Homo sapiens: one gene and its partners. The protein of the gene in region 4 purifies or fractionates together with the protein of the main gene of each other region. This does not show direct contact. Each region holds a gene or a part of one and is shown on either strand. Other genes may lie near its edges.

Region 1 (3,500 bases), on a different chromosome or scaffold from region 4:
AACAAAAAGTAGATTTAACAAGGTACCTAGAAAACCAAACATTTCGTTTTGATTATGCCTTTGATGACTCAGCTCCTAATGAAATGGTTTACAGGTAGGTAAATTCATTTTAAATCAGAATTTTGTTCTTATGCCATGTGGTCATCAGCACCTTGAAATTTACATTGATTGTGGGATATTTCTTAAGAGGTGCAATATGCTGTTTTATTCTGAGTTTAAACAAAGAGAATGTAATAAATGCTGTAATGAATATTAACACTTGTTCTCTGTAATGCTCCCCAAAATCATAGTTTCCATTACTATTTGCTAATTAGCTTATTACACATATATATACATATATATACATATCACACAAACCATGTATATGGATAAGAAATTTCGGGAAAATGTTAACATTACCTCTAGGAATAGGATATGATAAGAAGACTTTTAATTTTTACCTTTTAATCTCTGTACTAATAAAGAAACTTGAAATGTTTGTTTGAGGCATGGTCTTGCTCTGTTGCCCAGGCTGGAGTGCAGTGGCACGATCACAGCTCACTGCAGCCTCGACCTTCCAGGCTCAGGTGATCCTCCCATCTCAGCCTCCTGAGTAGCTGGGACCACAGGCATGCACCACCACACCCAGCTAATTTTTGTACTTTTTGTAGAGTTGAGGTTTCGCCATGTTGCCCAGGCTAACCTCAGACTCCTGAGCTCAAGTGATCTGCCCGCCTTGGCTTCCCAAAGTGCTGGGATTACAGGCATGAGCCACTGTTATGCCTGGCCAAAATACCTGTTATCAGTTAATTATTAATTTATCTAAATCTGTATTTAGTATGTATTGTCACTTAAGGCGAAAAAGTTCCGTACTTGTATTTAAATTTGTCATCTTTAAGCTTGGAGATAGTTTTAGTACATGAGATTCTTGTATGTTTTCTGTATTCAACTTAAAAATAATTCAAATTTATCTGTGTTATACATTGGTATCTCAAATTTTTATGCCAGATTTAGATTTTCATACGTAAGTTTGCAAACATTCATTTCTAATAATTATAACACCAGTTTTAGCAGTATTGTTATTTTGGTTTATCTAGGAATATTACTGTCTTTGTAATTGCTTGAATACTATATCTGATTGCCCTTTTTCATAAAAATGCCTAGAAAGGAAAAAATTAGAGTTAATGAGACTAAGAATTGAAGGTGTTACAAAGGAAATACTTTTGAGACCAACTCTTTTTGTCTTCACCAAGTGTACTGGGTAGTCAGTTGTAAAAAAAAAAAGGATCAAATTAAAGGACATATGAATACTAGATAGAGATATTTGTGAAGAATATGTTTAAAGGGGAATCATAATTGTTAATTGTAGAATTTTTTTTTAGCTTTCTGAAGAGTCCACTTTTCCTTTTCATTCCCTCTTTCTACTCCTGCCTCATAAAATATAAGTTTGACTTTTATAATAGTTTTTAAGAAATTATTACAAATACAGGCATGTTTCTGTGTGTATGATTTAGTAAACATTGTGTTTTTACCCTATGTTTATGTTTCTTAACTTTATCAATATTTATCCTTCTCCTCTATCTCTTATACTTAACTATTATGGATTGAGGAGTTACATGTTTTTTTGTGGGTAGGGTTGGGAGGTAGGGGTTTGATCTACTTAGCAGGCTCATCCCTAGTTCTGTTTGACCAGAACTTTTTCCTGCTCCTTTTGTTCTGTACTTTCTTCAGTTTTGCCTTTTACAAAACAAAACAAAGACAGCAGTTATATAAAATGTTCTACTTGTAGATCTGTTTTCCATCTTTTTTTTTTTTTGTTTTTTTGAGGCTGAGTTTTGCTCTTGTCGCCCAGGCTGGAGTGCAGTGGCATGATCTCGGCTCACTGCAACCTCTGCCTCCCAGTTCAAGCGATTCTCCTGCCTCAGCCTCCTGAGTAGCTGGGATTACAGGCGTGTGCCACCACGTTCAGCTAATTTTGTATTTTTAGTAGAGACGGGGTTTCACCATGTTGGTCAGGCCGGTCTCGAACTCCTGACCTCAAGTGATCCACCCACCTCAGCCTCCCAAAGTGTTGGGATTACAGGCATGAGCCACCACGCCTGGCCTCCATCATACTTTTTAGTGTACTGCTCAGGGGAAAAGTACTTCTTATACCTTCCCACCTTTTTATTTTAACTCTAGCAGTGGGTTATACCAATACATTTGAAATATAATTCAAGGCCGGGTGCGGTGGCTCATGCCTGTAATCCCAGCACTTTGGGAGGCCAAGGCGGGCAGATCGCCTGTGGTCAGGAGTTTGAGACCAGCCTGACCAACGTGGTGAAACCACGTCTCTACTAAAAATACAGAAATTAGCTGGGTGTGGTGGCAGGTGCCTGTAATCCCAGCTACTCGGGAGGCTGAGGCAGGAGAATCACTTGAACCCGGGAGGCGGAGGTTGCAGTGAGCTGAGATCGCGCCATTTGCACTCCAGCCTGGGGGACGAGAACGAGACTTCGTCTCAAAAAAAAAAAAATGTAATTCAAACCATAATATTTAGGTATCCTTTTCCTAAATTGAGAGTGTCAACTTACTAATAGAATTCATTTTCCTACAAGCACAATTTATATTCTTTTTGCTTAAGTATAAATTACTTGTCTAAATTCAAGGTAATCAACATTTTTCTATTTATTTAGATGGTCTATAGATAATATTTTTGCAGTTTTTTTCCTCTATTAACTTTTTAAAATTGAGATTACCACTCTTGTTTATTCTGTTTCTGTTGAAATTATAATACTTTGTGTTTGTTTTTATTGTATATGCCTTATTGTGACCATTATTTATTATGGAAATATTGCTTGAAATTATGCTTTAAGTAGTTTAAGTAATTTTAGCATATGATATTTAAAATTCTTAAATCAATTCTTCGATATTGTTATTTAAAATTTTTAACAAAGATTTGTTTAGAATCTTGCTATTAAGTTTTATTTATTAATAAAATACTTTGTATTACTCAGCATTACTATTATTCATCAAAATATTGGTGACACATTCTGACTGATGCATTTTATTTTTAAGGTTTACTGCTAGACCACTAGTGGAAACTATATTTGAAAGGGGAATGGCTACATGCTTTGCTTATGGGCAGACTGGAAGTGGAAAAACTCATGTAAGTAATTTATTAAAGTTACATTCTGGTACGAAGCTACAGTTTCTTTTCCTTATAGCTTAATTCTGTGAACTAAATTCTTAAGAGTTATTCCTGAGTAATGTCTGTTCTTTATTTTCTTTTTAAAATATAGACTATGGGTGGTGACTTTTCAGGAAAGAACCAAGATTGTTCTAAAGGAATTTATGCATTAGCAGGTAACTGTCCTTTTTCCATAAAATTTGGAATATTCTTCTGTGGTATTATTCAGGTAACTTTGAAATAAGGCTTTAAAATATTGTTCAGCAACTATAATGCTATATTAACTGTCTATTATGTCAATTATAGGTTATTAGATTGCTTGAAAAGAACTATAAGATTATATATTCACAAT
Region 2 (4,110 bases), on a different chromosome or scaffold from region 4:
AATGACAGTAAAAGTGCTACAGAAGATGGCTAGGAAAGAAGTACTATGAAGCAGTGACTAAGCAGTACCTGTCAAGTGCACATAAAATGCATTCCACTCTTGTCATACAGTGGGACAGGTAGTAGCAGCTTAGATCTTACGAAGAGCAACCACAACTTTTTCCATCCTATCCAAACTGTAACCAGAAGTTCTTGTCCTGGCTCACCTCAGAAAATGCTGATTAAAACTGTGTAAAGTAATAGAATGAAGACCACCTATGCCCTTTCAACACACAACCATTCACGAACATTCACTGTGATTGATAACACAACTCTGATCGCAGACTGAGAAACTCACAAAAATTAGGCCCCAAAGTGAGATATTTCTAAAGCTTAACTTCTGATGTAAAAGCTTACCACTTACATGGCAAAACGGGTCCATAAAATGCTTCAGACTGGCATGCAATCAAAGACTGCAACGGTGTGGCCTAAGTATTTTCTTTCCCTGATCCTTACTGGTGTGGCAGAGCAGCTTCTCAAGCCCACAGATAACTCTCTCCACAATGGCCTCAGGAAAATCAGTGCATGCAGAAAAACTATTTACTGAAGACTTTCATTAGGGGGCTCCCTAAAACAAAATGAATACAAAAGGAGTCTTGATCATTTTGCCTGTCTAAATGAGCACATTAAACTAAGTTGATTCTTAGAAAATCATTTAATATTTTCAGGGATTAAAGAAAGAAAATTGCCAATTAATACAGTCTTTTCCCAGATGTTCAGTTTTTACTAACGTCTTTAGCTATTCTCTGCATTCAAGTGATTGTATTTTTATGCAAATTATCTTTTGGGGCTAGTCTCTAGTTTGTGTGTCTGTGTGTGTGTGTGTGTGTATTTAAAGCCACACAGATACAGAATTTGACATGTTTTCTGCCACACAGATACAGATTTGACATGTTTTCTGTTCTGCTGCTCCATACAATAGGTTTTAACACAGCTTGAGCTTATTCCAAAACTCTAATTAGAAACTGCAGTATTTGCCTTGTCCAAATAGAAACCCATTCCCAAAGTTGATTTTTCCCCAGTTAAAATTCAACAAAGAATATCATACACAGATATTTTTAAACACGACAGTTACTAGATAAAACTGCCCTATCTAACAACACATTGCTTTCTGGTTAAGCAACACAATTTCATAAGGCCTATCAAATACTTTATCCAGACGGCCACTCTATTTTCAGGGTATTGGTTGTATTATTTGAAGTCTTTTTTTTTTTTCAGAGTGAAGAGATTTCTGACTTCCTGTCCTCTTCCCTGCTATATTACATACATCTGCTTAAACTCTGGAAAACAGTACCAGTCAAAGTGGTGCTGAAACCTTCCTTTAAGACAAACTAAAACGATGTTAAAAAGGTTACACGACCTTACTATTTCAAGTACTGGTATAAAACCACTTTCTCTGCACAGGTTCTAAAATTTCACAGTCGTTTGTCTTAAAGTCTGTCGGCTTGTGAGGGGGCTGGTACATATTTTAATATTTAAATTTCAAAAAATAAGCAATGAGACTGTGTTTGAAGTTCAAGGGTTTTCACTAGTTCTCAAGCTACAAACCCTGTAATATAGCCAAAAGAAAACGTACAGAAAGAATCTTTCACGAAAAGTGTCAGGTCTCCAAAACCCCGACATCTGCTAAAACCAGGATTGCGGGGGGGATGAGAAGCTCGTGAAGTTCAAAAACACACCAACCCCGCGGGAACACGAAACCTCCACTCGCGAAGACGCGACGCTTCCGCCGCATCCCCGCGCAGGTGAAGACTCGGCCCTTCAGCCCCGCGTGTGCGGCAGCATGATATTCAGAGTGCGCCGGCGTCCAGCGCGAGCGCATCCTACGACAACCCCGTCTCCCGCTGGGGTCCGCAGCCCGCGGACTCCGGGGTCCCCCCGCCCAAATGCGGCGGCGCGACCGCTTCGTCCCGCGGCCAGGGCGCTCCGCGTCTGCTCCGGCCACCCCAGCCCACCCGCGCAGCGCGGACGCCAACGCATCCCACTCCCGCTGGGCGCCAGGGGCGCGGGGTTCAGTGGGGCCGCGGCCCCCGCACCCGGCTGGGATCCGAGGGCGGGGTGGTCGCGGCTGACGTGGGCTTTGCGGCTCCGGGCCAGAGAGCAGCCTGGGGGACGGTGGGTCTCTTTCCGGCTTGGGAGGGAACGGGGGCGCCCGCGCGGGAGGACGGCAGGCGAGGGACGGCGGCCGCGGGCGATTCAGATCCGGGGCGGGCGGGTACACGTCGGAGCGCGGCGGCCACACGCTCGCCCGGGGAGCGCCACTGTGCGTCCCAGCCGGCGCCTCCTCCCGCTTGCCCGCGCCGGCTGGAGAAAGGAAGGACGGCGACCTTCGCGTCCGGTCCGCGCCACCAGCCCGCCTCGGCGCCGAGCGCGGGCCACACCCAGCGCTCCGGGAGGCGGCGGAGGCTGGGCGGCCCGGGCTGCGGAATGCTCGGCCCAGCCGAGTCTCCGTCCCGGCCGCGCAGGCCCCTCCGCGTCCGCCCGCGCCCTGCATCCCCAGCCGGCCCGGCGTGGAGGGGGTCCTGGGCTTACCTCTGTGTCGAGCGCCGGCTCCTCCGTCCCGGGCCGGAGCCGGGGCCCGGGGGCGCGGTCGCCAGGGGAGGCGCCGCGGCGGTGGCGGCCCCTGCGGCTCGGAGGGCGGGCCGAGCGGGAGCCGCTGCCTGGGCCGCGCGCCGTCCGGAGCTCGCCCCGCGCTGCCGGCGCTTGCAGCGGAGGGCGCAGCCAGCTCGGCCCCCGGACTGGATTCCTTCACTGACACAACTCCGGCTCGGCCGCCCCACGCAGGGACACTCCCGCCCCTCGCAGGCTGCCCCCGCCCGCCGACCCGCCCGCCTTCCCCTCGGTGTCACTCACCAGGAGCACACACCCCAGCCGGCGCCCCTCGCTCCCGCTCGCAAACACAGCGCTGCTCACGCCTCTCTCGGGTTTTGTATCCGCTCACACGCACGTTCTGACACAGATCTCGTCCCTCCACACGCCCTCCCTAGCTCCTTTCCCACCCCACTTTCTAGAAGAATCCCAGTACAGCTTCCGCACTTTGCTTGCTTGCTCCAGACCGACTTCCTCGCCTTTCCCCAAACCTCCACTTCACCGAAACTCCCCTTGTTAATGAAAGATTTTGTCACAATCCGCACGTGTTGCAAGAGAATCATCTTCTCCTACCCGAGAAAATGAACTTTGCTCCCTCAGCACTGTCTGCAAATACGAGATGTTTTTCCTTTTAGAAGGTAGTAATGCTTTCTGGAGAGGATCCAAGCTCAAAATGTAAGCAAAGATAGCCCATTCGAAAATGACCTGAAAAATCAGGCGCGGAAAAAGTGCTGGAGCTCGGGTCAGCCCTTGGAAACCCGACCAACCCGGGGTGTTCCGCCGCCTCCTCTGCGCTGCGGGTCTGCACACTGGGCTCCAAACGTGTGTGTAATAACCAAGTTACACATGGGCATCGTGGGCTTCAGCCGTGGGTTTCTGCCTGGGAGTACAGTAGTCGGGAGAGTAAAAGCAGTTTCTCAATCATTATTCATGATGGAAGCACTTTAGATAACACTCTTCTTCCAGAGGCAGTAGAGTGAAATGCAGGCAGCTCTCCAATTCAGGTTTTTATTTATTTATTTATTTATTTATTTATTTAGAAGGGTGACTTCTTAGCTTCCTTTTTTTTTTTTTTTTTTGGCAATACCAATAACTGTTTCTGAGTGGCTCCTTGGCTGTCAAGCTCCTTACAAATATCAGACCAGAGTTTGTTATGCTTCTCGAGCTCCAGACTCTAATGGGCCTCCGAGGGCACTGCAGAATCGTACATAATCCGATGTTCAGGAATTCATAATTTGAAATAAAATACAAACACCTTTCGGATAAAGTTCAAATCTGCTAACATAATGTGGCCCTGTTGACAACGCACTGCTGAAATAAAGAGAGGAGCTAAAACGAAAGGAATTCATTTTCTTATGTGACTTGGAGTGGTTCTTGCTACCTTATAGTCGCCTTGGATTGGTGTGTGGATAATATAATTTATTTAACAGACATTAGCAAGTGCTTTATAAGTACTAGCTCATTTAATCCTTGGAAGAACCCC
Region 3 (2,409 bases), on a different chromosome or scaffold from region 4:
AAACAGTTTGGGACTTTTTTTTTTGACACGGAGTCTCACTCTGTCACCCAGGCTGGAGTGCAGTGGCCGATCTCAGTTCACTGCAACCTCCGCCTCCCGGGTTCGAGCAATTCCCCTGCCTCAGGCTCCCGAGTAGCTGGGACTACAGGCATGTGCCACCACACCTGGCTAATTTTTTGTATTTCTTAGGAGAGATGGGGTTTCACCTTGTTGGCCAGGATGGTCTCGATCTCCTGCCCTTGTGATCCACCCGCCTTGGCCTCTCAAAGTGCTGGGATTACAGGTGTGAGCCACCACGCCTGGCCTTTTTTTTTTTTCTTTAAAGTTGTAAGACTACAGGAAATGGAGAGGCAGAGACAGTTTTGGAACCTATGTAGTCACCAGGAGAAACAACCTGTAAGATATTCATGTTACTTACTGCCTACTACACTAAAGTGAGGAATGCCAATGCAGGGAATTGGGAGAGGAGGAATGAGGATTGCTAAAGCAACTGCAAATAATTTATACTCCTGGATAACGGAATTTATTACATTTACATACTCTAAGTTCAAGAATGATTTACTCACAATTTAGTAATGACTTTGGAAAGTACAGTAAAATGTGTGAGCAGTTTTAGTTACATTATTATTTGTTGGAGTCTAAAGTACTCCACAGGTGTTTTGATACATGCCTGTTTGGGGTTAGCAATGTACTTTTCTGGTTAAACATCAATGGGGGTTACACATTTATCTTCTCAACAAAACAGGCTCCTCTAATATATGTAAATATGACTGGTCACCTTTTTCTCTTAAGCTAAATGTGATAGTTCTGGCTTTGCTTATTTGCTTTCTAGCAGCCTCCCCATGTTAGTCTTGCCACATGGTCAGTCTTCTGTTTGGTAGGTTTTATAAATCCTAAAAGTTCTAGTTCAGAAACAGCTCTAATAAACCGAGCACTGGAGGCTTTAATTAAGGAAACTGGCCGTGCTGTATTTTTGACAAAAAGGGATTAAAATCTCAATGTTAAAATACTAGTTGGTAAAATGAAGTAGATAGTTCAGATATAAACTCCTAAATTAAACTATAACTGTTACTGGAAAACATTAATTAGAATCCACTATCAATAAAACATAAATGGAAAAGTACTTAATGCTTCCTAAATCTAATGTTCTACATAGTATGGAAATTGCTCCCCGCCCCCACTTCTAAACGTACATTAGAAAAATAGAGAATTCAGACCAGGTCAGTGGCTCACACCTGTAATCCCAGCACTTTGGGAGGCCGAGGCAGGCAGATCACCTAAGGTCAGGAGTTCAAGACCAGCCTGGCCAACATGGTGAAATCCCATCTCCCCTAAAAATACAAAAATTAGCCAGGCATGGTGGCAGGCGCCTGTAATCCCAGCTATTTGGGAAGCTGAGGCAGGAGAATCGCTTGAACCCGGGAGGTGGAGGTTGCGGTGAGCCGAGATCGTGCCACTGCACTCCAGCTTGGGCAACAATAGCAAAACTCTGTCTCAAAAAAAAAAAAAAAAAAAAGAATTAGGCCGGGTGAGGTGGCTCACACCTATAATCCTAGCACTTTGGGAGGCCAAGGCGGGCGGATCACAAGGTCAGGAGTTCGAGACCAGCCTGGCCAACATGGTGAAACCCCGTCTCTACTAAAAATACAAAAATTAGCTGGGCTTGGTGGCAGGCACCTGTAATCCCAGCTACTTGGGAGGCTGAGGCAGGAGAATTGCTTGAACCCAGGAGGCGGACGTTGCAGTCAGCCAAGATCGCACTACTGCACTCCAGCTTGGGCGATAGACGAGACTCCGTCTCAAAAACAAACAAACAAACAAAAAAAACAAAAACCAAAAAAAGAGAATTCAATAATGGCAGTTTCATTTTTGGTAAATTTTAAAATATAATCTTGATATAAATTTGATACCAAAAGTTTTAGGTTTGGTCTCATTTTGGATTAAATTCAAAATAAAGATTCAGAAATTTCAGTTATTCTAGCACCATATGGTTAATATTAACAAGTAATACGGTTGTTTGGAGTACGCCTTTATAAATATCTAGTGTAGACCTGGAGAAATTATAAACTTATATTTTATGTGTAGTTGGACATTGTAGAAATGGTTTTAAAAGGATACTGGATAATTTCATTCATTTCTTCTGAGGTTGCAGAATTTGCATCCATTTTTTCAGCAGCTGTCACAACTGTTGCAAAAGCCTTTTGAATAGACAAGACAGAAGAAAATAAAAATGTCTACAGTTGCCAAACATCTTTTACTATACTTCTTTTAATGGCTGTTGATAGCTGGCACATATTCTTCATTATATCAAATTTAAGATTGTCAAAACTACACTGATGATCACTTTAAACCACTTATATATTAAAAGATAAAGTAATGGTTCCTGAATAATCTTGTTTCAGAGAACTA
Region 4 (4,175 bases):
TGTTTGGAGGATTGCAGAGCTTGGGGGACTCTGGGTCCCCCTGTGGCTTGATGCCTGCTGTGGGGACTTAGGGCTGCAGCTGGTTGGAACTGGGGTCCTCACTTGGCGTAGGCCTTCTCCAGGAGTGGGGCCCAGAACTCATTCCGCTGTTCCGAGCGCACGAACATCAGCTTCCCCTCACGCACGGGCAGCCTGTCATCCACCACGACGTCCATCCAGCGGCCAAACTGCCAGAGCTGGTGGGAGAAGATGCAGGGCCGGACTCGGCTTCCAACCTCCAACCCTGCCTGGGCCCTGCCTCTGCTGTGCCAGTCCCAGAGTCAGGAATTACAGCCCCAAGTCAACGTTAACTATGAAATCCATATGGCTGGCCGGGTGCGGTGGCTCACATCTGTAATCCCAGCACTTTGGGAGGCCGAGGCGGATGGATCACGAGGTCAGGAATTCGAGACCAGCCTGGCTAAGATGGTGAAATACCATCTCTACTAAAAATAAGAAAAAATTAGCTGGGCATGATGGCGGGTGCCTGTAATCCCAGCTACTCAGGAGGCTGAGGCAGAGAATTGCTTGAACCTGGGGGCGGGGCGAAGGTTGCAGTGAGCCGAGATTGTGCCACTGCACTCCAGCCTGGATGACAGAGTGAGATTCCATCTCAAAAAAAAAAAAAAAGAAAAATCCATATCACCAAGTCACCATGGGGGAAACGGAGGCATGGGCAGAGGAACTGAGCTGTACCTGGAAGTGGAAGACGCCTGCGTAGCCATGCTGGAAATCCTGTCCAGGAGGGACCACCCGGCGCAGGAGCCGGGGATACAGAGTAAGGGAGGCGGCAGCTGCAAGGAACCAGCAGTTACCTGGGAGGAGAGGCCAGGATTAGGTGAGGATGGAAGGAGGGAGGCCTGGTGCGGTGGCTCATGCCTCTAATCCCAGCACTTTGGGAGGCCAAGGCAGAAAGATCACGTGAGCCTAGGAGTTCAAGACCAGCCTGGCCAACATGGCAAGACTCCACTACAAGAAAATTTAAAAATTAGCTGGGCATGGTGGCATGCACCTGTAGTCCCAGCTACTTGGGAGGCTGAGGCAGGAAGATTGCTTGAGTCCAGGAGGTTAAGGCTGCAGTGAGCTATGATGGTGCCACTGTATTCCAGAATGGGTGACAGAGTGAGACCCCATCTCAAAAAAAAAAAAAAAAAAAAAAGGAAGGAAGGAAGGAGGGAGGAGGGAGAGAGAGGCCTAGGGAGAGAAGAGACTGAGGAGGGATCCAGGGGCCGGGAGTGGGTGGACAAAGGGATGGAGCTGTCAGGATCTCAGCTGAAACTAGCTGGATCTGAGGACTCCAGGTGGGTTCAGGGTCTCACCCAGGCTCCCCTGACACACGTCTGTGCGGCTCATGTCTTCACAGATGAACTTCGGCTCAGCACAGAACTCCTGTGGGTGGTGGGGGATTCCAGGCCTCAGCCTGAGAAAGCGAGGAAAGGTCTCATCCAGAGGAGTGAGGGCCTCCAAGCCCATGAAAGGCCTGGAAGCCTGTGGGCAGGAGCATGGCTTCCCTGGGTCTCCAGAAGTTGTGCTGAGCCAGTCCCATGGTAGCCCCCTCCTCCCTCAGACCCGGGAGTCCAGGCCCAGCCCCTCCTCCCTCAGACCCAGGAGTCCATGTCCCGAGCCCCTCCTCCCTCAGACCCAGGAGTCCAGGCCCAGCCCCTCCTCCCTCAGACCCAGGAGTCCAGGTCCCGAGCCCCTCCTCCCTCAGACCCAGGAGTCCAGGCCCAGCCCCTCCTCCCTCAGACCCAGGAGTCCAGGTCCCGAGCCCCTCCTCCCTCAGACCCAAGAATCCAGGTCCCCAGCCCCTCCTCCCTCAGACCCAGGAGTCCAGGTCCAGCCCCTCCTCCCTCAGACCCCGGAGTCCAGGTCCCCAGCCCCCTCTTCCCTCAGACCCAGGTGTCCAGGCCTTGGCCTCTCCTCCCTCAGATCCAGAAGTCCAGGTCCAAGCCCCCTCCTCCCTCAGACCCAGGAGTCCAGGTCCCCAGCCCCTCCTCCCTCAGACCCAAGAGTCCAGGCCCAGCCCTTCCTCCCTCAGACCCAGGAGTCCAGGCCCAGCCCCTCCTCCCTCAGACCTAAGAGTCCAGGTCTCGAGCCCCTCCTCCCTCAGACCAGGGAGTCCAGGCCCCCAGCCTTCCTTCCTCAGACCCAGGAGTCCATGCCTCCAGCCCCTCCTCCCTCAGACCCCAGAGCCCAGACCCCAGCCACACTTTACATGGGGCCTCATCCATTTCACGCCTTTGGCCTTCTCCGAGTCCGGCCCCAGCTGGTCATAGCCAAGGGCATCAGGGCCAGCAGGGAAGTAAGGGTCGCGGAACAGGATCCCCGAATCCAGGCAGGCTGCCCGAATTGCCTCATAGCTCTGGCCCCGAAAAAGCTGCAGGCGCCCGGCTCCGACCCCAGCCTCCTCATCCACGAGCTGGATGGTGACCCTCCCACTGCTGGATGCCATCTGGACACTGGCCTCACAAGCCGGCACCAGGCCCTTTAACCTCCTGAGTCACGGGGGCGGGGCCTCTCTTCCATTGGAGCCCCAGTGGGGTCTTTAGGCAATGAGGAGCCTTCCCTCGTTAATATTAATTGATGGTTTGGGGTGCTGGGGAGCAGGGACGCCTCTTCAGTAGCTTTCTTCCCAGGGCGTGGGGCCTTCAGTTGTGGCCAAGGTAGCAGCTTAATGGGCTTGGCCAGCAGCAGGAGAGAAGGCGGGCAGAGCTGAGGGAGGACCGGCTGCCGCTGTCAGAGCACCAAGAAGGAGGTCAGTGTGGGGGTGAGCTTCTGCCTACTTATGCCTGTGGGGCTGGGGAAGGAGGCGGGTTTACCTCGGTGTCTCTATCTCTCAGACTGCCTCTCTCCCCCTCCCTCTGACAGTTTCTCTCTCCCCGCCTTCATGTTTCTTCTCCATCAGTTTCTGGAGTGCAGTGGCACGATCTCAGCTCACTGCAACCTCCGCCTTCTAGGTTCAAGTGATTCTCCTGCCTCAGCCTCCCAAGTAGCTGGGATTACAGGCTCGTGTCACCATGCCCAGCTAATTTTTGTATTTTTTGTTAGAGAAGGGATTTTACCATGTTGACCAGGCTGGTCTTGAACTCCTGGCCTCAAGCAATCCGCCCACCTTGGCCTCCCAAAGTGCTGGGATTACAGACGTGAGCCACTGTGCCTGGTCAGGTTTTGTTAATTAAAAAAAATTTTTTTTAAAGTAGAGACAGAGGGGTGGCGGGGGGCGGTCCCATATGTTCCCCAGGCTGGTCTTGAACTGCTGGCCTCAAGTGATCCTCCTGCTTCAGCAGCCTCCCAGAGAGCTGGGATTACAGATGTGAGCTACTGTGCCTGGCCCTTTCTTGTTTTTTGTTTCTGGCAATATTTGTGTCTCTGTATTTCCCCAACTCCACCCCTCTCCCCACCCCACCCTCTTTTTTTTTTTTTTTTTTTTTTTGTAGAGATGGGGCGGGGATCTCACTTTGTTGCCCAGACTGGTCTCGAACTCCTGGGCTCAAGTGATCCTCCCCGCTTGGCCTCCCAAAGTGTTGGGATTACAGGCGTGAATCACTATGCCTGTCCCCTCTCTCTTTGTGTCTCTTTCAGCGTGTGTCTGTTCCTCTCTGTACCTGTCAGACCCAGGAGTCCAGGCCCCCAGCCCCTCCTCCTTCAGACCCTGTCAGTGTACCTTGTGTCTGCCTCCCTGTCTCTTCCTCTCCATCTTTCTGTCTGTCCCTGTAACCCATATGTGGCTCCTCCATCATCCACCGAGGGACCCTGAGCTCCCCTCCGCTCACGCCCCCTAAGCCCTCAGGATGCGCCTCCTCCCCTCCCGGACAAGGTAGACTCAGCCTGCTTGCCCAGGGAGGCTGACCCTGGAGGGATGGCTCTGTACCTCTCCTGTGCTGGGAGCCATCTGGTGACCATGATGCCCTGCCCTGGCCCACGCCACTCAGAGTCTGGATGGAGCAGTATTTCCCCCAAAGGACTCTGGAGCCATTGGAGGAAATGGGAGAAACAGGTACGGAGATGCCAGAGCCTCAGCAGTGCTGGTCCCAGCAGACCTTCCACCCTCGTTGAGGGTGTCTGCTGCCCTCCCAGAGCCTTGTCACCTCCACGCCACTCAGATGTCCCTCAAGCCTTTTGGCCTTCTTCCCTCC
Region 5 (3,500 bases), on a different chromosome or scaffold from region 4:
TGTTTTTACCTTATGGCTGTGATTCATAGTGCTGATATGAACATTGGTCTATAAGTATTTGTTTGAGTACTTGTTCTCAGTTCTTTTTGGTGTACACTTAGAAATGGAATTGCTGGATCATATGGTAATTTTGTGTTTAACTTCTTGAGGACCTCCGAACAATTTTCCACCTCGGCTGAACCATTTTACATTCCCACCAACAACATACGAGGGTTCCAATTTCTTGACTTTCAAGTTTTACACTTAACATAAAAGGCATTGTGTACCTGCTAGTTTGCTAGAAAAGGAGAAACCAAAGTGGTTAACAATTAACAAGTCTTCTTTTATTTTCCAGAAACTTAACTTGCTTTGATTCTTCTTAGATATGTGGTAGATGGTGGCTTCGTGAAGCAGTTAAATCACAACCCCAGATTAGGGTTGGACATCCTGGAGGTGGTTCCAATTTCAAAGTAAGTCTCTATGTCAAATCTTTTTATTCAAAGAACAACTGATTAGGTAATTTCTAGCTGTTTTGGGGAGACAAAGTAAATTACCTGAGAAACCCACAGAACATTTTGGGGAATTTTTGGGTTTTTTTCCTTTTGTAGGAGCGAGGCATTACAGCGAAGTGGCCGAGCTGGCAGGACTTCTTCAGGAAAATGCTTTCGGATCTATAGTAAAGATTTTTGGAACCAGTGTATGCCTGACCATGTGATCCCTGAAATTAAGAGAACTAGTTTGACATCTGTAGTTCTGACCTTAAAGTGCCTTGCCATACACGATGTCATAAGGTATGTAGACAACTAGAAAAAAAAGGAAAAACTTGTTAGCCTGGAACCAAGTTATTGGCTCAAAAATTATTTTGAAATATTTGACTGATACATCCCTGAGAGTTGAGGCTAACCTCTTTTACAGGTTGGTTTTTATATTGGTTGCTTTTCTTTTCTTTTTTTTTTTTTTTTTTTTTTTTTGAGATGGAGTCTTGTTCCGTTGCCCAGGCTGGAGAGCAGTGGCACGATCACGGCTCACTGCAACCTCCGCCTCCCGGGTTCAAGCAATTCTCCTGTCTCAGCCTCCCGAGTAGCTGGGACTACAGGTACCTGCCACCATGCCCAGCTAATTTTTGTATTTTTAGTAGAGATGGAGTTTCACCTTGTTGGTCAGGCTGGTCTCGAACTCCTGACCTCAGGCGATCCACCCACCTCGGCCTCCCAAAATGCTGGGATTACAGGTGTGAGCCACTGTGCCTGGCTCTATTGGTTGCTTTTCAACTAAACTAACACAGAAGACTTCCTTGCATTGCTTTAGTAGGATCTCTTGCTCATGTTTAACCTTGGCTTAATGGCGGGGTTAGGGGGTTGTGCTGATGTTTATGTGGATCACTTAGTGACCACTGTTTATTTGTAATGAAAGGTATATAATGAGCTGGGCATAACAGCTTATGCCTGTAATCTCAGCACTTTGGATGGCCAAGGTGGGAGGGTTGCTTGAGCCTAGGATTTCGAGACAAGCCTGGGCAACATAGTGAGACCTTGTCTCTACAATTAAAAAAAAAAAAAAGTCTGATATGGTGCATGCTTGAGTCCCAGATATTTGGAGGCTGAGACGGGAAGATTGCTGGAGCCGGGCAGGTAGAGGCTGCAGTGAGCCATGATTGCACCACTGCGGTCCAGCCTGGGCAACAGAGTGAGACCCTGTTTCAAAAGAAGGGGGCTGGGCGTGGTGGCTCACGTCTGTAATCCTAGCACTTTGGGAGGCCAAAGTGGGCGGATCCCTTGAGGCCAGGAGTTTGAGACCCGCCTGGCCATCCTGGCAAAACCCCGTAGCTACTGAAAATATAAAAATTAGCTGAGCTTGGTGGCACGTGATTGTAGTCCCAGCTACTCCGGAGGCTGAAGCACGAGAATCACTTGAACCCAGGAGGCAGAGACTGCAACGTGCCAAGATCACACCACTGCACTCCAGCCTGGTCAACAGAGCGAGATTCTGTCTCAAAAAAAACAAAACAAAACAAAAGGGTATACAGTTGGAAAGTGGAGTGTTTTTTTTGTATGGCCAGCATCATACTATATACCATGAAAGACAGAGTAATACTCTGTAGTTTTTTGCTTTCACTAAGCTTAAGTTATATTAGGAAAACAAGGTTCAGACACGTGAAATAAAGGAAGAACAGTTAAATTAGCCAAATATTAATATAATTTATTGGTATAAGATAGAATATTGTTATAGATAGAAATTTCTATCATACATGGTAGGGGAATTAATGGAGGAAAGTACTATCTTCTTTATTTTGGTCTTAATTGCCTTGGAATGTAAAACTGCTCAGGAATTTTGGGGGATGGTAACCGTGCAGTTTTTAAATTCATAGTAAGTGATTATTAGGTGCATCCAAATATGTATTGTAGGCCGGGTGCGGTGGCTCACGCCTGTAATCCCAGCACTTTGGGAGGCCGAGACGGGTGGATCACCTGAGGTCAACCTGGCCAACATGGTGTAACCCTGTCTCTATTAAAAATACAAAATTAGCCAGGATGGTGGTGCTCGTCTGTGATCCCAGCTACTTGAAAGCCTGAGGCAGGAGAATTACTTGAACCCGGGAGGCAGAGGTTGCAGTGAGCCGAGATTGCGCCATCGCACTCCAGCCTGGGCAACAAGAGCGAAACTCTGTCTCCAAAAAAAAAAAAAAACCAAAAAAAGCAAAAAAAAACCCCAAAACCCACAAATACTCATTGTATACTCTTGGAAAGCCAATTTGCCAATTTCAAAATGTTTTGATAGTTATCATTAGATTAGAGATTTTCTGAATGAGAATATGTAGATACTGGAAAGAGAAAAGCATGTAATAAATGAAATTCTGACTGTAGCAATAAATTATACCAATGAAAAGAAGGAAAGCGCCATTTAAAGAAATCCAAAGAGCCCAATAGAAAACTTTCAGATGAACCCAGATATTAAAATAATGTCTTGATTTTTTTCATTTGGGGAAAAAGGGCCATTTTTGGAAATAGCTGCTCAGTAAGTTTGACATTGACTCTTAGTATATTCACAAAGGATAGCAGAGCAGCCTCTAACCAAGAATGAGTATATATTAGAAAAATAGGAACAATAATTAATATCATCTGCATTGAATTATTTTTCCATCTTAAGTCTTAAAAGCCATAGTGTACTAAAAATCGCAAAATTATGTTTCAAAATGCTTGAAACAAAAAACAAAGACTTCCTTTTTAAAAAGTTGTATAAAGAATAAGGAGAGGTAGAGCCAGTGTTTGGGGTAGATGGTATAGGATTCATAGACGACAGAAAGAAAATGGATCTTCTCAATTATTATTTTGCTTTCCCTTTCTTTTCCATCAGGAAGAATAATTTTAAAGCTGAAAATGCAAGAACAGGTCTGAATAAGAAGGAATTGATGACTAAGGTGGAAGGAAATAATGAGGGAAAACCTACCACCATAAGTGATTTTGTCTTGAGCATTTAGACATTATTTCCGTGGTGTTAAAAGAACTTGCAGATTTAGCGTC
Region 6 (3,500 bases), on a different chromosome or scaffold from region 4:
CAGTAAAGCTTTCTTGAACTATACAGCCTTTACTATTTGTTCATTCAGACAGTTGATGGTAATATAAACTTAAGCCTGGCCAACATAGGGAGATCCTGTCTCTACAAAAAAAATTTTAAAATTAGCAGGGCATTGTGGTGTGTGACTGTGGTCTCAGCAACTCAGGAGGCTGAGGCAAGGGCATTGCTTAAGCTGAGGAGTTGGAAGCTGCAGCAAGCTATGATCATACACCACTGTACTCCAGCCTGAACAACAGAGTGAGACCCTGTCTCTATAAAATAATAAATAAATAAACTTTAAAACAGACTACAAATCTGAAAGTTCTATTATATAAAATAGTAACTTTATTATCCATTCATTCCAATATTTATTATCTATGATATGACAGGTATGCCTATTCTACAAAAATAAGAAATGGAAAATAATACCAAGTAGGTCAATTAATCATCTACTGAATTATTATTCCCCAAATGACTTCAGGTTGTTAGTAATACAGAGAAGCAGTATATTTTAGAGTGCTCAGTTTCCACCCATTATTTTGCCCTACAACTACCATTCTGTTTAATCTTAACACTTGAGTGGTACAGTGAAGAACTATTCTTTAATATACATAAAATTCAGCCTGCTAAACACTCTTTAAGAATGAGATGAATATTAAACAACTGAAATTCAATTAATAAGTTAGAGATCCACTTCCCACTGTTTAAAAAGGCACTTAGCACTATATTGACAGTAGAGTCAAATTTATTTTCACAGTAGAGCCAATTTATTACTATGCCATACCAAATTTAAATCAGAAAAAAATCATAACTCAATTTTTAACATTTTAAGACTACTGAAGAGCCAGAAATAAACACTCAGTAAGTATTATTAGATATATTACAGAACAATTTGAACAAAGATAATTATCTTACCATCTCCAAAAGTATAGCCTGAGTTTTAGCCTCTTTTTCTGCCTTTATTTCTTCTACTTCCTCAGCTGATCTTCCTTTGAAATCATCAATTTCTTCATCTGCTCCTATTCGACCACTCTGTTAAGACAGAAGTTACTCATGTATATATTTAAAGAATAAAAAAATCTGAGAAACATAGAAGACATACTTTATTCTTAGTTATATCAAACATGCTAAAACAGTAACTGATCAAGGTTGCAGTGAGCTACAATCACACCACTGCACTCCAGCTGGGTGACACAGTGAGATCTTGTCTCTAAAAAAAAATTTTTAATAATTAATTGGACAGCAACTGAGACAAACTTATAAACCTCCAAGAATTGATTTATATTAATTCTAAAATATTAGCCAAAGTGGGCTTCTGTTAAAATCAAAATAGGCCAGGCATGGTGGCTCGTGCCTGTAATCCCAGCACTTTGGGAGAACACGCAGGTGGATCACTTGAGGTCAGGAGTTCGAGACCAGCCTGGCCAACACAGTGAAACCCTGTCTCTACTAAAAATACAAAAATTAGCTGGGCGTGGTGGCATGCACCTACAATCCCAGCAACTCAAGAGGCTGAGGCACGAGAATTGCTTGAATGAGGAAGGCAGAGGCCACAATGAGCCGAGATCCCACCACGCACTCCAGCCTAGGCAACAAAGTGAGACTCCATCTCAAAAAAATAAATAAATATTTATATGGACACTATTTATTATCCAATTCTAACTGCTGAATGAAGAGAAATGATCTGACAATTAAGCACCAATCCCAACCATAAAGACAAATTCAGCTTTCAGGAAGCCACATAAACCTTAAAATATGTGGGGGAACAGTCTGCGCTGTTTCACAGAAATTTCTGGGTTCTAGCCTGGCTCCAGAGTGTCCCCAGTTGAAAAGTTACCTCACAAGATAACAGTTTAATTTGATGACAAGAAAAACACTTTCCCAAGGTGTTCATGTAAGCTTCTAGAGCTGAGGTTGTCTCAGTAGAAAAGAAACTGAAGAAAGGAAATTAGAGAAATGAGAAGACAGCTAGAAAAATGAGTACCTCTGTGGAAAAGAAAAAGAACTCCAAACTTGTTGAATATAATTAAGCAAGATAATAATTCGGAAAAAATTAACTTTAACAGATGAAAAAGATAAATCCATACAAATCATTAATATGAATGTACATTTAATCATAAGAGGGCTTTACTTACATCTAATTGTTCCCTTGTAGGTTCTGGTGATCGATCAGGGATTAATAAATCAGGAGGGTCATCAAATGGATCATCTAAAATCACCGTATGATTTATCCTTACAAAATAAATCCAAATCAAATGTTATACATTGAAGTTATTTCAGAATCCTATTTTATTTTAATAGATTACAAAAAATTACTTGATTATCTCTAAGGCCAAAAAAAACCCATATTGCATATGGATATTACTAACCTAGATATACTTTCACAATGAGTGTTACTGTTTTGCATTGAGTGATACCATATTTATCACCCTGCATTACTTTAAGATGTAAACTAATATAACTGTCTAAATCTTAGTACTTTTGCCCTACTTCTCAATTAAAAAACTAAATTAAAGCATTAACAATTCCTCCAGCTGGGTGCAGTGGCTCATTCCTGTAATCCCAACACTTCAGGAGGCTGAGGTGGGTGGATCATGAGGTCAGGAGATCGTGACCATCCTGGCTAACATGGTGAAACCCCGTCTCTACTAAAAATACAAAAAATTAGCCAGGTGTGGTGGCGGGCGCCTGTAGTCCTAGCTACTTGGGAGGCTAAGGCAGGAGAATGGTGTGAACCCGGGAGACAGAGCTTGCAGTGAGCCAAGATCGCGCCACTGCACTCCAGCCTGGGCAACAGCATGAGACTCCGTCTCAAAAAATAAATAAATAAATAATTCCTCCAAACATAATTATAAATAATTAGTACAAGTATAAAAATACAAAAAGTCCTTTTTATTATAAAGATTCTTACAGTCTTATATTAATTCACCTTTTGGGATTAGAATTATCCAGAAACCAGTCCTATGCATACCGTTCCTATCCATACCACTACGTGTTAAACATCTCAATATTAAAACATTCTAGTACATTCAGATAGCAAATTGTAACCATACCTGATATCCTGATATGGTACAAAGTCCTTGTCAACAAAGGTCTCATTAATTTTCTTAATTATGTCCATGCCTTCTGTCACCTCACCAAACACCGTATGGACACCATCAAGATAATCTAGATTTTCTCCTGTGGTGATAAGAAACTATAAAGAAGGACACATAATAAATACCATAAAAATAATACATAACTCAAACTGAAATCAGTTACAGACTGACAAAAAAATACATGAAAGTTAAGAGTCCACATTTACTGCACCAATTCTTAGACACTTGTTACCAAAACTAAGTAAAAAGTACAAAGCTTATACTGGCATACCTCATTTTATTGCACTTTGCAGATACTGCATTTTTTACAATTAAGGATTTCTGGCAACCGTGTATTGAGTAAGTCTATTGGTGCCATTTTCCCAACAGCATAGGCTCACTTCATGTTTCTGGCTCACATTTT
Region 7 (3,500 bases), on a different chromosome or scaffold from region 4:
CACACCCAGCTAATTTTTTTGTATTTTTAGTAGAGATAGGGTTTCACCATGTTGGCCAGGCTGGTCTCAATCCCCTGACCTCCAGTGATCCACCTGCCTCGACCTCCCAAAATGCTGGAATTACAGGCATGAACCACCGTGCCCGGCCTCATCTTTCTTTTTCTTACTTTCCCCCATGTGAACTGGCTAAGTTTTCATATCATTGGGTCATGTATATCATAACTATCCCACTCAGAGTCACATCCTATTGGACTAATCCCAACAGTTAAGTGGACTGGACTGGATTTGTGCATTTGGGACTGCTAAACTGAAGTCATATTTCTTTCTCCAAATTTTAAGGAATGTCTGTGTCTCTAACACACATCCTCTTCCAGGTCCATGCACATCTTATATCACTAGTAACTTATAATCCTGGGCTAATAAATTAAGAAACTGGTGTTAGCTGGGTGCAGTGGCTCATGCCTGTAATTCCAGCACTTTGGGAGGCCAAGGTGCGCAGATCACTTGGGGTCAGGCGTTCGACACCAGCCTAGCCAACATGGTGAAACCCTGTCTCTACTAAAAAATACAAATATTAGCCAGGCGCAGTGGCACGCACCTGTAGTCCCGCCCTACGTAGGAGGCTGAGGCATGAGAATTACTTGAACCCAGGAGGCGGAGGCTGCAGTGAGCCGAGATCGCGCCACGGCACTCCAGCCTGGGCGACAGAGCAAAACTCCATCTCAAAAAGAAAAAAAAAAAAGAAAAAAGAAAAAAAAGAAACTGGTGTTTTCCAGGACACTCACAGTTATCTATGTAACAGGTTGAAAGCAGCAGGAAGAAGTTAAACAAATATTCAAAACTACAGGTATGAAGAGCTTCAGAAGAATCTGTGTAGTATTAGGTAACCCTTGGAAAAAATTCTCAAGCGTCACTGAGGCCAAGCCTGGTTTTTGTTCAAGACCTGACAGGACTCCTAAAAAGTGATGTAAGAGTCATGATGAAAGCATTTCAGAACTCCAGCACTGACTTAATAAAGAAAAGAACACCCCAAACAGATTTCACAGAGATACTTGATTAAAATCCATACTTCAAGCATTTCCTAAAGGGGTTACCTTTACAGTGCAGAGCTGTGGGAAGAATTTTGAGACCAGCTGGTATCCTTTGGGAAAAGCATCTGATTTTAAGTAAATAAGGAGAAAGGAACGAGAACTAATATGTTAGGCGTTGTATTATGTATTTGTATTTATTAGAACTATTTTTCTATTTTAGAGATGAGCAAACTAAGGCACAAATGTTAAGCAATATCAGTCACAATGCCAGTAGATAGTGGAACAGGGTAGGAATCCAGTTCTGACTGATCCCATAGCCTGAGTGCTTTCTACCTCTCAAAGTGGAACATCAGACCCCTCTGCAAGGCACCTAATAGCCTTTTTTTTGAGATCAGGTTTCATCATGTTGCCCAGACTTGAACTCCTGGGCGCAAGTGATCCTCCCACCTCAGCCTCCCAAAGTGCTGGGATTACAGGCATGAGTCACCGTGCCTGGCCAGCACCTAACAGCTTTATGTCAAAGCTCATTAATATCAGGACTACAACCCAGTTGCCCGACCAAAAATCTGAACTGTTTTAACTGATTTATGGTATGAATATGGTTGAAAACCACTCAATTAGATCGCTTTCTCTTGCTTTCCTTGATTTGCTGTCTTTTTCACCCGTCTAATAACTGCACCATGGCAAAGTCATTCTGTTTCCTGCCTTAAATCACACGGAGAGGACTGTGTGGTACTCTGTGAGACACAGCTATGTTTCAAGGTCGAAGAATTTTTTTTTTTTTTTTGAGATGGAGTCTCACTCTGTCACCCAGGCTGGAATGCAGTGGCCCAATCTCGGCTCACTGCAACCTCTGCCTCTTGGGTTCAAGTTATTCTCCTGCCTCACCCTCCTGAGTAACTGGGATTACAGGCACGTGCCACCACACCTGGCTAATTTTTTCTATTTTTTAGTAGAGACGGGACTTCACCATGTTGGCCGGGCTAGTCTTGAACCACTGACCTCAAGTGATCCACCTGCCTTGGCCTCCTAAAGTGCTGGGATTACAGGTGTGAGCCCCTGCACCTGGCCAAAGATGTTTTTTAACCAGGTAAACAGAAGATATGTATGTGAACCTTTTCTTTCAAATATTTTTGCAGAGCCTAAATTTTTAAAAATAATATACACATCATCATGCTTTTAAATGTAATTCATTTTACCTTTTTCTTGCCTGTTACTGTCCATTCTTTGAGTACTTCACTGGCACTACCTGTAAGAGAAACCAATTACAGATTTTGTCTCCTACCACACACACAGTAGTCAAGCAGGAGTCAGTGTCCTCCCATTTTGTAATTGCTGGAGAATTTACAAAGCTCCTAACAGAAAAGTTAAAGTTAAGGATCAGGTCTAAAGTAATGTAATGAGATAATCATGCCATGCTTCCCTTTTGGAATACCTGCCTACTTAGACCCCTCCTCTCCGAGTAATTTCCTCAGTAAGTTCTTCTAAGAAGAGACTAATGTAGCTGGGCCATTTTGAAGATTCTCTTATCCATACATCTTAGACCAAATACAAAGGGGATGGCACACTGGTTTTAGCCAAGTGTGCCATCCTTTCCCCTCCAGTTACACACCCACCTTGGCTATGTTGTTTTGGAGACAGCTGCACATTACCCTAGACCAAAACACTAACATTATTTTTTAAAAAGATGAAGATAAAGAAAAACTTTACAACATTCAAACTTGTGCATCCTATGTTGGCAGATTCAGGAAAATAAAAACAGGGAGACCTAACCTCATGTTGCTATTCAAAGACGCAATAGCTTCAGATAGTTTTTCTCCAACAGGTTACATGGAAGGAAGGTTCATAAAACACTTCTCAATGTTATAAATCTGAAGGGTTGACTAAGCCTGCCATTCTTCTACGTATTAGATAAGGAAATTCAAACCCACACATTTGAGTCACTTGCCACAGCCAAACTAACGATATTAGAATCCGGAAGACAATACTGAGTCCTTGAATTTGCCATCTGTTGGTGAGCCACTGAATCACTGCTTTGTTATTAAGAGTCTCTTAAATTCTTATTCAACCCAAGTCCAATCAAGTCCCTTATACCACTGGCCACATGATTTCCTCTTAAATACCATTAGAGAACATTTAGCGTGAAACAATGGAGTTTTCTCAGCTTATCTCTTATTATAGACACCACATAGCTTATTTCAGCTGAAAGAGGTATCGTCAAATGTCATGGTATGTTATGTTTTCATGGGGTCTGCTCTATCATCTATGAATCACTGGATTGCTGAATGTTATAAAAGTCTGAAGCAAATTCTATTTGAGCAAATATAAATTTATTTTTAAAATTAAGTCAGGATTACCTTCCATGAATGCTTGTACTGTTTTGTCCACACAGTTATCAAAGTGCTGCAAAACCAGGATAATTTCATTGTTGCTCTTATTAGGAACTATTGCACGTACCGCATTTATCTG

What was found.
Region 1: the proteins of CAPN12 (region 4) and KIF2A purify together in Homo sapiens (affinity purification with mass spectrometry; one large-scale study listed by BioGRID and IntAct). This does not show direct contact.
Region 2: the proteins of CAPN12 (region 4) and SPATS2L purify together in Homo sapiens (affinity purification with mass spectrometry; one large-scale study listed by BioGRID and IntAct). This does not show direct contact.
Region 3: the proteins of CAPN12 (region 4) and ORC3 purify together in Homo sapiens (affinity purification with mass spectrometry; one large-scale study listed by BioGRID and IntAct). This does not show direct contact.
Region 5: the proteins of CAPN12 (region 4) and DHX40 purify together in Homo sapiens (affinity purification with mass spectrometry; one large-scale study listed by BioGRID and IntAct). This does not show direct contact.
Region 6: the proteins of CAPN12 (region 4) and PPIL4 purify together in Homo sapiens (affinity purification with mass spectrometry; one large-scale study listed by BioGRID and IntAct). This does not show direct contact.
Region 7: the proteins of CAPN12 (region 4) and SPATS2 purify together in Homo sapiens (affinity purification with mass spectrometry; one large-scale study listed by BioGRID and IntAct). This does not show direct contact.

What each region holds. Positions count from the first base shown.
Region 1 is NC_000005.10:62,358,206-62,361,705, forward strand, and holds part of KIF2A (kinesin-like protein KIF2A), read left to right. Parts: coding exon 1-94; intron 95-3,036; coding exon 3,037-3,127; intron 3,128-3,260; coding exon 3,261-3,324; intron 3,325-3,500. UniProt on the Homo sapiens protein: Plus end-directed microtubule-dependent motor required for normal brain development. May regulate microtubule dynamics during axonal growth. Required for normal progression through mitosis. Required for normal congress of chromosomes at the metaphase plate.
Region 2 is NC_000002.12:200,305,383-200,309,492, reverse strand, and holds the start of SPATS2L (SPATS2-like protein), read right to left. Parts: upstream 2,801-4,110; 5' UTR 2,571-2,800; intron 607-2,570; exon of another isoform or gene 421-606; coding exon of another isoform or gene 403-420; intron 1-402.
Region 3 is NC_000006.12:87,665,543-87,667,951, reverse strand, and holds the end of ORC3 (origin recognition complex subunit 3), read right to left. Parts: intron 2,199-2,409; coding exon 2,119-2,198; intron 942-2,118; coding exon of another isoform or gene 935-941; coding exon 829-934; 3' UTR 501-828; downstream 1-500. UniProt on the Homo sapiens protein: Component of the origin recognition complex (ORC) that binds origins of replication. DNA-binding is ATP-dependent. The specific DNA sequences that define origins of replication have not been identified yet.
Region 4 is NC_000019.10:38,741,675-38,745,849, forward strand, and holds the start of CAPN12 (calpain-12), read right to left. Parts: upstream 2,801-4,175; 5' UTR 2,492-2,800; coding exon 2,255-2,491; intron 1,460-2,254; coding exon of another isoform or gene 1,429-1,459; coding exon 1,359-1,428; intron 855-1,358; coding exon 736-854; intron 237-735; coding exon 103-236; intron 1-102. UniProt on the Homo sapiens protein: Calcium-regulated non-lysosomal thiol-protease.
Region 5 is NC_000017.11:59,579,110-59,582,609, forward strand, and holds part of DHX40 (probable ATP-dependent RNA helicase DHX40), read left to right. Parts: intron 1-362; coding exon 363-449; intron 450-587; coding exon 588-770; intron 771-3,500. UniProt on the Homo sapiens protein: Probable ATP-dependent RNA helicase.
Region 6 is NC_000006.12:149,532,544-149,536,043, forward strand, and holds part of PPIL4 (peptidyl-prolyl cis-trans isomerase-like 4), read right to left. Parts: intron 3,196-3,500; coding exon 3,053-3,195; intron 2,232-3,052; coding exon 2,135-2,231; intron 1,032-2,134; coding exon 915-1,031; intron 1-914. UniProt on the Homo sapiens protein: PPIases accelerate the folding of proteins. It catalyzes the cis-trans isomerization of proline imidic peptide bonds in oligopeptides.
Region 7 is NC_000012.12:49,489,462-49,492,961, reverse strand, and holds part of SPATS2 (spermatogenesis-associated serine-rich protein 2), read right to left. Parts: intron 3,498-3,500; coding exon 3,389-3,497; intron 2,281-3,388; coding exon 2,231-2,280; intron 1-2,230.